Linked DNA regions of Homo sapiens. The protein of the gene in region 3 purifies or fractionates together with the protein of the main gene of each other region. This does not show direct contact. Each region holds a gene or a part of one and is shown on either strand. Other genes may lie near its edges. The genes, in order: PAAF1, PINX1 and ABCF1.

Region 1 (3,727 bases), on a different chromosome or scaffold from region 3:
GCTGTGTTGTTTTTTAAGTCCTGAGGTCCTTAAGTGGTCCACCACCTTCTTTCCATCATTCCAAGTCTTACTATGCTTGTGGTGTCAATGACTTTTCAGTTGTAAACAGAAGGACCTAGGAGCAATGGGACTACTCTTTCTTGGCCAAAACCAGAAGTCATGTCCTTTTTTCAAATGGGGAGGCTAACCCTTTTAATCAATTATCAGTGAAAGCAGCAGCAGCATATATGTAAATAAATATATATATATGTGTGTATATATATGTGTATATATATGTATATATGTGTATATATGTGTATATATGTATATATATGTGTGTATATATGTATATATATGTGTATATATGTATATATATGTGTATATATGTGTATATATGTGTGTATATATATATGTATATATATGTGTGTATATATATATGTGTATATATATGTGTGTATATATATATATGGGTCTTGCTCCACTGCCCAGGCTGGAGTGCAGTGGAGCAATCATGGCTTACTGTAGCCTTGAACTCCAGGGCTCAAGCAATCCTCCCACCTCAGCCTCCTGAGTAGCTGGGATTACAGGCACGAGCCACCATACCTAAATTAAATTTTTTGTACAGACAGAGTCATGCTGTGTCACCCAGGCTGGTCTTAAACTCCTGCGCTCAAGAGATTCTCCTGCCTCAGCCTCCCAAAGTGCTGGAATTACAGGTGTGTACCACTGCACCTGGCCAAGGCAGTGATTTTCAAACTGAATTAGCTTAGGTGTCAACTTTTTTTTCCTCCAAAGTTCTTGTTAAGGTGTCTACTTAATTTTTATTTTTTATTTATTTATTTATTTTTTGAGACGGAGTCTCCTCTGTTGAAGGCTGGAGTGCAGTGGCGTGATCTCGGGTCACTGCAACCTACGCCTCCCAGGTTCGAGCGATTCTCCTGCCTCAGCCTCCTGTTTAGCTGGGATTACAGGCATGTGTCACCACGCCTGGCTATTTTGTATTTTTAGTAAAGACAGGGTTTCATCATGTTAGCTAGGCTGGTCTTGAACTGCTGAGCTCAGGCAATCCACCTGCCTCGGCCTCCCAAAGTGCTGGGATTACAGGTGTGAGCCACCACGCCCGACCTCTTAATTTTTCTTTTTAAAAAAGAGTTTTGAAGACAAAATAAAAAACTTGAACATGATTTCTCTAGCACACTCCACTAAAAATTAAATCCAGTACTTGTTTTTCCATGCCTGTCTTTCACAGCTAGACTTTGATTCATTGGGAAGCTGGGACTCTATTTCTGTTTTTCTAGCACTTGAACATGGCCAGCATGTGGTACCTGTTCAGAACATGTTTGTGAAGGGATGGAGTCATTTATGCAGCTCCATCTTCTCTGCCCTTGTAGTTCCTTTACTCCATCCTCCATCTTAGGGAGTTTTTTTCTCTTGCTAGGTATCCTGGATACAGCCATCGTTGATCGGGGGAGGAATGTGGTGTCTGCTTCTCGAGATGGGACAGCACGACTTTGGGATTGTGGGCGCTCAGCCTGCTTGGGAGTCCTTGCAGATTGTGGTTCTTCTATCAATGGAGTGGCGGTGGGTGCTGCTGACAACTCCATAAACCTTGGCTCCCCTGAGCAGATGCCCAGTAAGTTGATAATGATATGTAGCATTGTTTTATTTTCTTAGGCCCCCTTCAGTGATTGCCTTAGTTTCTCCTTTTCTTCCTCATCCTTTTCTGCTCTGTGCCTGGTATTTCTGTTTTCACCATACGATTAATATTTACTCTGTACCTACTATGTTTCTATTACTTTGGAATCTACAAAGGAAGTATATGTCATAGCACTGCGTTTCAGTAAGTACAATCTAATGTAGAAGATGAGATAAATGCCTATAAAGCAGGGGTGTCCGATCTTTTGGCTTCCCTGGGCCACATTGGAAGACTTGTCTTGGGCCACACATAAAATACACAACATTGATGATAGCTGAGCTAAAAATAAATAAATCTCATAATATTTTAAGAAAGTTTATGAATTTGTGTTGGGCCTCATTCAGAGCCACCCTGGGCTGCAGGTTGGACAAGCTTGCTTTAAAACATTTAGAGAACAGTAACATTTGGCTGAAATAATTAGTGATTCTTTTTATTTATTTTATTCTTTTAGCGATAGAGTCCTGCTGTTTTGCCCAGGCTGGCATTGAACTCCTGGGCTCAAGTGATGCTCCCACCACAGCCTCCCTAATAGCTGGGACTACAGGCCTGCACCACCATGCCTGGCAAATTAGCAAGTCCTAATGCAAATATAATAGGTTTTCAGAGGGACGGAGTGTTCCCGGTTAGTATAGATAGGAAAGATGTCACAAAAGAAGTTGGCTTGAACCTTTAGAGGATAAGTTGAAGTTGAACAGACAGTAATTGTAAGGATAGGACAATGGGAGCTAGGGCAAGGGGTAGGTGTAGGGGCAGTTTGCATTATAGCTTGGACGTGAAACTAAGTGTTATATAAAAAGATATGTTTGACTGGGCTAGAAAGTTGAATTAAGAGGGGTAGTAGTAGGAAATGGGTTGAATAGCTGTGGTGAGAGACTAATAAAGGTCCTAATAAGGCAACTTTCCTTCTTATTTTCCCATAATAATAGTTGCATCTCTGTTCCATAGGACAATGTTTTTTCTACTGTTGTCTTAGCCCCTCACATTTTAAAAAATAGCCCTTATTTTTTAGGGCCATTTTAGGCTCACAGCAAAATTTAGCAGAAAGTACAGGGGACCAGGTGCAGTGGCTCACGCCTGTAATCCCAGCACTTTGGGAGGCCGAGGCGGGCGATTCACAAGGTCAGGAGCTCGAAACCAGTCTGGCCAACATAGTGAAACCCCATCTCTACTAAAAATACAAAAAATTAGTTGGGTGTGGTAGTGTGTGCATGTAATCCCAGCTACTCGGGAGGCTAAGGCAGGAGAATCGTGTGAACCTGGGAGGAGGAAGTTGCAGTGAGCTGAGATCGCTCCATTGCACTCCAGCCCAGGCGACAGTGTGAGACTCTGTCTCAAAAAAAAAAAAAAAAAAAAAAGTACAGGGAGTTCTTATATACCTTTTGCCTTACCCACTCACACATAGCCCTCCTCACTATCAATATCCCCCACCAGAGTGGTACATTTATTACAGCTGATGAACCTACGTGACACATTATTGTCACCCAAAGTTCAGAGTTTACATTAGGGCTTACTCTTGGTGTTATATATCCTATAGGGTCTGACAAGTGTACAGTGACATGTATTTACCATTGCAGTATCATACATAGTAGTTTCTTAGCCCTAATAATCCTCTGTACTCTGTTCAAGCAGTTCTCCTGCCTCTCACCCTCTCGAGTAGCTAGGACTCTAGGCATGCACCACTACACCTAGCTACTTTTTTTTATTTTTGTAGAGACAGGGTCTCACTATGTTGCCCAGGCTGGTGTTGAACTCATGGCCTCAAGTGATTCTCCCATCTTAGCCTCCCAAAGTGCTAGGATTACAAGCATGAGCCACAGCTCCTGGCCCTAAAGTAATTTAAATGAGAATATTTTTTCTTGTTTTCTGTAATTTTTCATTTCCCATTTACTCTTCAACCCATTCTAGGATGGTTTGTGCCCAAGTACTTGACTGAAATGGCTGTTGTTAAAGTCACCAGTGACCTTCCTTTTTTTTTTTTTTTTTTTGAGATGGAGTCTCACTCTGTTGCCCAGGCTGGAGTGCAGTGGTGCGATCTCTTGGCTCACTGCAGCC
Region 2 (3,600 bases), on a different chromosome or scaffold from region 3:
CTAACTGAGCGTTTCCAGGAGACACCTCATTGTAACAGAAGATCCAACGATAACTAACCATTTACCACCTGAACCATGGCAACAGGCCATAAATGTCTGCTTCGATCTTCTTGACCATCTTAGAGACAAAATTACCTTTCTGAAATCATATACCAACACAGGAGGTGCTTGAAAAACTCTGATTTCCGACTAATTCAGTATTCTCCATTCTATATAACTACCTTCCACTCTCTCTGGCATAATCCAATAGATCTGCTAATTATCCTAAGATTTTTGTGATCCTGCCTTCCTGAGTCCAGTGCCCTACTTTTAACCTTGTTCCCTATGTCACAATGTCACAGCTTTCCTGCCTTGGCTGGGAAAATTCCATTCACTTGCCTCCCCTCACCCCCTCAGTATTCACTGATAGCTATAAGCATCCTTTTGTGTTTCTTCTAACTTTTATGAAACTAGGGTTTACCTTTTTCATCCAGATTCCTAGTTAAAGGGAGAATTTCATTGTAAACAAGAATCTAGTCCTTCAATTGCTTTTCTTGGCACCTGAGTGGTGCTCTTTTTACCTTCCTTTTATGTAGGAAAGGCTTCTGTGTGCACTGTCACCTGAAGTTTACTGGAGAGTCACTCACCCAAAAACATGTCTTTACCATACTTAAAAGTGTTATAGCTAAGAGCTTATTAGAACTCCCCTGGAGACAGGGATACTTGAATTAAATTTTGCAAACATCTATGGAGCCTTACCATACTCACATTATTTTGCGAGGTGCTGGTACGAATACAGAAATGGATATAATAAAGGCAACCTTCCAGTGTGTGCACTGTGGTGGAGAAAATAAATAAAACCTTTGCCTTGTTGAAGGCATCCCATTATTTAAAGAGGTAACATTTTCCCCACAACTATTTTGTGTGGGGTCCCACAAAAAAACCGATAGATAGCAGACCTATCTTCTGATATCTATCTACTATCTATCTATCATCTATCTATCTATCTATTTATCTATCATCCATTTGTTTATCTATCTCAGAAAGCAGAGGTAGGGTACGAGGAAGAGATGGGACATTACAATGCAAAGTCCTCCCCTCCAGCCAAGTTTTTCAAACTCCTTGTCCATACAACATCCATGACCCTAAGTTCAGCTCTTTACACATTTCTTTTCCCCGTGAGGCTGAGCTGCTTGAGGGCAGGTCACGTCTTTCCACTACCCTTCTTGCCGGCACCTAGGGCTTCCTGATGGAGACCCTACAGGTAATCCACGTGAGCTTATGCTCCGCGGCAGACACGCCCAGGCGGGCTTTACTCACATCAATAGCTTAGTACGCACACTCCCTCTAGCCAATGAGCGAATACGTACTCCTTTCTCCACCTCCCGCAGGGCGGCCACCGCCCCCTCAGTCCCTCTTTCTCCCGTCACCTCCCCAGGTTGCCCCGCCCTGCTCCGCCCCCTCGCCGCCGCGTGCTCGAGGAGCGAGTCGCGCGCTACTGACGTCACCAGCACGCGCCCCGTCCGCTGCAGTCCGCCGGCGAGGGAGTTACGCACGTCCTGATTCTCCTGGAGTCTCCAGCCCGCCCAGTGGCCGCAGTCACCCAGGTCCAGAGGCGGCGGTATCACAGGCTCTCCGACATGTCTATGCTGGCTGAACGTGAGTGTCGGAAGCGGAGGCCCGACCCAGGCGCGTTGGTGAAGATGCCGGGTGACGCGCACGGCAGCCCGGAGTGGCTGGGAGCTCGGGTTGCCGGCGCGCCTGGCGCATGGGATCGGGGGACCGGGGAGCCGAGCCCGGCTCTGATTGTCCTGCTCGCCGCAGAGCTCCCCGAAAGTTGGCCGCAGGTCTGCTAGTGAGAGAGACCGCAAGTGTCTCCCGGAGACGCCGTTCTCAGAATCACCCTGGGTCGCGTGCGAAGTGGGTCAGAACACCGGGTCCCGGGACTGGCCCCGCCGCCGCCCTTTGTGGGGTCCCGGACTGGTTGCTTCACCCACCCCGGACCTCAGCTTCCTGAGGTTAAAAAGAGAAGGTTGAGCAGAAGGATCACTTGAAACTGTAATCACATTGTCCAAGATGTCTTGGACCCAGAAAAAGAAAAAGCAAAGGAGTTAGAAGTCTCAAATATGGGACGTCAGCCACTTAGCGAGGGAGTGCAGGGCTAATGTGTAATTCTAAGTGAGACTGGCGTTTTTGACCTTGTTAGTTGGCCACAGCGCCCCGTCCTGCCTGTTTACCTTTGACATTTATCTTCACTTGGTGGAGTCGGTGAAACCCCTGTCTCTGTAGAGGCTGCTGAACTTCTGAATTGTACCTGTAGCGAAGGTCGCTTGCCGCCAGATGGCAGTCATGCTTTGATCCTGAAAAGCGGGTCCTGCTTGGCGAGTTGTACAGTGAGCAAAGAACAGAAACAGCTTATTTAACAGATCAAGCAGACCAGCACAGGGATTTTGTGAAATAAGTGCTGTTAGCACTCTCTTTTCTAAGAGGGTGGAGGACTTAGGAGCACAAAACGAAATGGGTCAGGCACCATCCCGATTTTACAGGGGCAGAAATTGACGTTCAAAGGAAAATAATTTGCCCCTAGTCATTGAGGTAGAAAATGGCAAAATTGATCCAGTTATCTCTGTATCTTTATGTTCTTGCCAGTAAGACCAGCGGAGACCCATAGAAATGAGTATGTTTTAGACTGAACCCGTCGGTTCTATTTTTTCACCAGTAAAAAATGAGGAGTCAGGGTTAGAGCCTAGATAGCTAAGATCTCTTCTGGTTTTCGTATTCTTTGATGTTTGCTTAATTCAGCATGCACTTGGCGACTTTGGCCCTAGTTCTGCTATTCATTTATGTCTGTTCCTTTGATCAGTGTTTGTGAGGCCACAAAATCTTCTCTTAATATTTTTATCCCTAGGTGGCCTTAAATCAGTGAGATGGTGAACATGAACATAGTTTGAAAAGTCTGAAGTATAGAGGTGTAAAATGCTATTTGTAGGCATCAGTAATTCAGATTACATGATTTCAAGAGAGTGTTTTCAGTTCTCCTCTTCCCAACGTTATTCCAAATTGTCAAATCCTTGTCATTATAATATGTAATATTTTTGTGTTTTCTTTTTCGTAATTTGCTAAATGGGTATAGCATCTTCTGTAATTAGATACTTAGGATTGGTGTTGTTAAGAAGAAAAACCTTAGACAAATTATACAGAGTTTGATTGAGCAAAGAATGATTCAAGAATTGGGCAGCCTTCAGAACTAGAACCGGTTCTAAGAACTCCAACCTGCTATGTGGTCAGGCAGTATTTATGGACAGTAAACGGAAGTGAGGTACAGCGACAACTTGGTTAGGGTTACCGCTCTGATTTGCCTTATTTGAATCAGATGGCTGCCTGTGATTGAAGCCTAGCTGCTGTAATGGATTGAGGCTCACTTATATGTTATAAGAGTATACTCCTACGGTAGGCTTTCGCTTCCTTTAAGTTCTAACGTAGGTTGCAGTTCCTTATGTAAGGACTCAAGTACGGAGGCCTCCTCAGGCCAAATTTAATTTAGTGTAACAATACTCTCCTTCTGATCAACCTCTGAATTTTGAGAGATTGTTTAAAACTTCTGCCTCTGGCTCTTGGGAC
Region 3 (3,727 bases):
GAAAGTGCTCAAGGAGAAGGAGCAGCAGCAGCAGCAACAGCAACAGCAGGTACAAGTGCCACAGGGCCCACCAATCCTGGGAGGCATCTGGGTTCCACCAACCCCTTTCCAGCCCATGTTGCTCCATTCAGCTGATGGGGAACCCTCTGTGAGGCAGAAATACAGCAGGGGCCTGGGCTTCATTTTCTCACTGTTCTTTTGCTCTCAGCAGCAAAAAAAAAAGCGAGATACCCGAAAAGGCAGGCGGAAGAAGGATGTGGATGATGATGGAGAAGAGAAAGAGCTCATGGAGCGTCTTAAGAAGCTCTCAGTGCCAACCAGTGATGAGGAGGATGAAGGTAAATGACCTGAGGGGGAATGGGTACCTGGAATCCATGAGTCATGGAGAGTGATACCTCATACCCTGATCTTCAAGTTGGATTCAATTGGGGGGCCAGACATTGTAATTCTTTCCTATCTCATGTTCTCCCCCTGTCATTTCAGTACCCGCCCCAAAACCCCGCGGAGGGAAGAAAACCAAGGTAAGCCATCTGTGTGGTAAACGGAGACTCCAAGGATGCAACCTTGACCATCCTACTGACTTCTGTGGCCCTTTCATTCTCTAGGGTGGTAATGTTTTTGCAGCCCTGATTCAGGATCAGAGTGAGGAAGAGGAGGAGGAAGAAAAACATCCTCCTAAGCCTGCCAAGCCGGAGAAGAATCGGATCAATAAGGTGACAGTGGTGGCTCGATCAGTCACTCTCACTCCATTTAGCACCTTCTGGCCATGGTGGAGTAATTTCCCGCTTTTAAACTAGCTCTTCTCGGTCTGTCTTACTTATACTGTTAAAATCATCTTTTTAGAATACATGCCCAGGCTGGGCACAGTGGGTCACGCCTGTAATCCCAGCACTTTGGGAGGCCGAGGTGGGCGAATCACGAGGTCAAGAGATCGAGACCAGCCTGACCAACATGGCGAAACCTCATCTCTACTAAAAATACAAAAATTAGCCAGGCGTGGTGGCGTGCGCCTGTAATCCCAGCTACTTGGAAGGCTGAGGCAGGAGAATCACTTGAACTTGGGAGGTGGAATTTGCAGTGAGCTGAGATTGAGGCACTGCACTCCAGCCTGGGCAACAGAGCAAGACTCAGTCTCAAAAAAAAAACAACAAAAAAAACCATGCCATTTTTATCACTCAGAAATCTACAGTGATTCTGTTGCTTTAAGCACAGAACCTGAAACAAAGCCCCAGGTCCTTGCTCTTCTACTTGTGACTCTTCTGCGTGTGCATCTTAGTCCATGTCCATTTGAGCTCTTGAGAAAGCCTCCAGTGCTAGTGCCACTCACTCTGGTGGCGCACTTGCCTGACTTATAATCCTTAGCCTTGCTGACGTTCCCTAGTTATCTCTTCGCTATCTAGTCTGAAGCTGGAGGGTAGGGTTTTTCTGGGTCTCATTTTTCGTCAGCAGCACTCAATACAGATGGTCTCCAACTTCTGCTTCGGTGTACGATTTTTCTACTTTATGATGGTGTGAAAGTCATACTCATTTAGGGTACTCCTCAACTCATGATGGGATTATATCCAGATAAACCCATCATAAGTTGGAACTATTTTTTTTTTTTTTTTTTTTTGAGACGGAGTCTCACTCTGTTGCCAGGCTGGAGTGCAGTGGCGTAATCCTGGCTCACTGCAACCTCCGCCTCCCGGGTTCAAGTGATTCTCCTGCCTCAGCTTCCTGAGTAGCTGAGATTACAGGCACGTGCCACCACGCCCAGCTAATTTTTGTGTTTTTAGTAGAGACAGGGTTTCACCATGTTGACCAGGATGGTCTCGATCTCTTGACCTTGTGATCCACCTGCCTTGGCCTCCCAAAGTGCTGGGATTACAGGTGTGAGCCACCACGCCCGGCCAAGAACTATCATTTTTTATTTAAGTTTCTGGTGGGTTTATCGGGATGCAACCTGTCGTAAATGGAGGAGCATGTGTATGGTTAACACAGTAGACTCTCTAGAAATGCTTATTACACAGCAAAGTAGCACAATAATTTGTATGTATGTGTGTAATGTGTATGTGTGTCTCCTCCAGGCCGTATCTGAGGAACAGCAGCCTGCACTCAAGGGCAAAAAGGGAAAGGAAGAGAAGTCAAAAGGGAAGGCTAAGGTGAGAGAGTAACTAGCAGGAGGAGGTATTGGGGCCCAGGAATTAAAACATTTCATCAGGGCTGGGCGCGGTGGCTCACGCCTGTAATCCCAGCACTTTGGGAGGCCGAGGTGGGCGGATCACGAGGTCAGGAGATCGAGACCATCCTGGTAACACGGTAAAACCCCGTCTCTACTAAAAATACAAAAAAAATTAGCCGGGCGTGGTGGCGGGCGCCTGTAGTCCCAGCTACTCGGGAGGCTGAGGCAGGAGAATGGCGTGAACCCGGGAGGTGGAGCTTGCAGTGAGCCGAGATTGCGCCACTGCACTCCAGCCTGGGTGACAGAGCGAGACTCCGTCTCAAAAAAAAAAAAAGAAAAAAAAAAAAAACATTTCATCAGACCTGTCTTTTCCCTATTAGCCTCAAAATAAATTCGCTGCTCTGGACAATGAAGAGGAGGATAAAGAAGAAGAAATTATAAAGGAAAAGGAGCCTCCCAAACAAGGGAAGGAGAAGGCCAAGAAGGCAGAGCAGGTGTGTATTTGGTGTTGGGGCAAGGTGGAATGAGGGACTAGGGCTTCCAGGGTCCTTATGGGAGAGTTAGAATCTGGGGATATAGTTATTATCCCAGCAAACCTTTATTCTTTTCTTTTTTTGGGGGAGTAGTTGGGGTGGTGGTTCGTTTGTTTTTGTTTTTGTTTTTGTTTACACAGGATCTTACTCTGTCACTCAGGCTGGAGTGCAGTGGTGTGAACACGGCTCACTGAAGCCTCAACCTCCTGGGCTCAACAGATTCTCCTGCCTCAGCCTACTGAGTAGCTGGGACTACAAGTGTGCACCACTACCCCTGGCTAATTTTTTTATTTTTAGTATAGAGATGAGGTCTCACTATGTTGCTCAGGCTGGTCTTGAATTTCTGGGCTCAAGCAGTCCTCCTGCCTCAGCCTCCCAAAATGCTGGGTTTACAGGTGTGAGCCAGCATGCCAGCCAGCAAACTTTTTCTATAAAGGGCCATATAGTAAATGTTTTTGGCTTTGCAGGCCACATACAATCTCTATCACATATTCTTTTTTTTTTTTAACAACTCTTTGAAAATACAAAAATTATTTTTATAAAGTTCAGGAGCTATATAAAAATAAATGTCAGGTCAGCCTTGGCCCATGGGCTGTAGTTTGCAACACCTAATCCAGTGAAGAAAGGGCCTGGAATTTATCTCAGATGATCTGGGTCCTGGCTCTGCCTTCACTGGCTGTGTGACCTTGAATACATCTTCCCATCCCCTTGGGTCTCACTTGTCTCCTTTGTGTGATAGAAGGAGGAGTCCGGAGATCTCTAGGGTCCCTATGCGTCTGGCACTTCCTAATTCTGTGATTCTGCTGGATTCCTCTGACTGTGCACTAGAGCTTCCTGATCTTTTTTTTTTTTTTTTTTTTTTTGAGATGGAGTCTCACTCCGTTGCCCAGGCTGGAGTGCGGTGGCGCAATCTCAGCTCACTGCAACCTCTGCCTCCCGGGTTCAAGCAATTCTTCTGCCTCAGTCTCCCGAGTAGCTGGGACTACAGGCACGTGCCACCATGACCGGCTGATTTTTTGTGTTTTTAGTAGAG

The links.
Region 1: the proteins of ABCF1 (region 3) and PAAF1 fractionate together in Homo sapiens (co-fractionation; one large-scale study listed by BioGRID). This does not show direct contact.
Region 2: the proteins of ABCF1 (region 3) and PINX1 purify together in Homo sapiens (co-immunoprecipitation; one large-scale study listed by IntAct). This does not show direct contact.

What each region holds. Positions count from the first base shown.
Region 1 is NC_000011.10:73,907,982-73,911,708, forward strand, and holds part of PAAF1 (proteasomal ATPase-associated factor 1), read left to right. Parts: intron 1-1,417; coding exon 1,418-1,612; intron 1,613-3,727. UniProt on the Homo sapiens protein: Inhibits proteasome 26S assembly and proteolytic activity by impairing the association of the 19S regulatory complex with the 20S core.
Region 2 is NC_000008.11:10,837,776-10,841,375, reverse strand, and holds the start of PINX1 (PIN2/TERF1-interacting telomerase inhibitor 1), read left to right. Parts: upstream 1-1,500; 5' UTR 1,501-1,619; coding exon 1,620-1,638; intron 1,639-3,600. UniProt on the Homo sapiens protein: Microtubule-binding protein essential for faithful chromosome segregation. Mediates TRF1 and TERT accumulation in nucleolus and enhances TRF1 binding to telomeres. Inhibits telomerase activity. May inhibit cell proliferation and act as tumor suppressor.
Region 3 is NC_000006.12:30,577,865-30,581,591, forward strand, and holds part of ABCF1 (ATP-binding cassette sub-family F member 1), read left to right. Parts: coding exon 1-49; intron 50-211; coding exon 212-338; intron 339-483; coding exon 484-521; intron 522-605; coding exon 606-713; intron 714-2,066; coding exon 2,067-2,141; intron 2,142-2,541; coding exon 2,542-2,655; intron 2,656-3,727. UniProt on the Homo sapiens protein: Isoform 2 is required for efficient Cap- and IRES-mediated mRNA translation initiation. Isoform 2 is not involved in the ribosome biogenesis.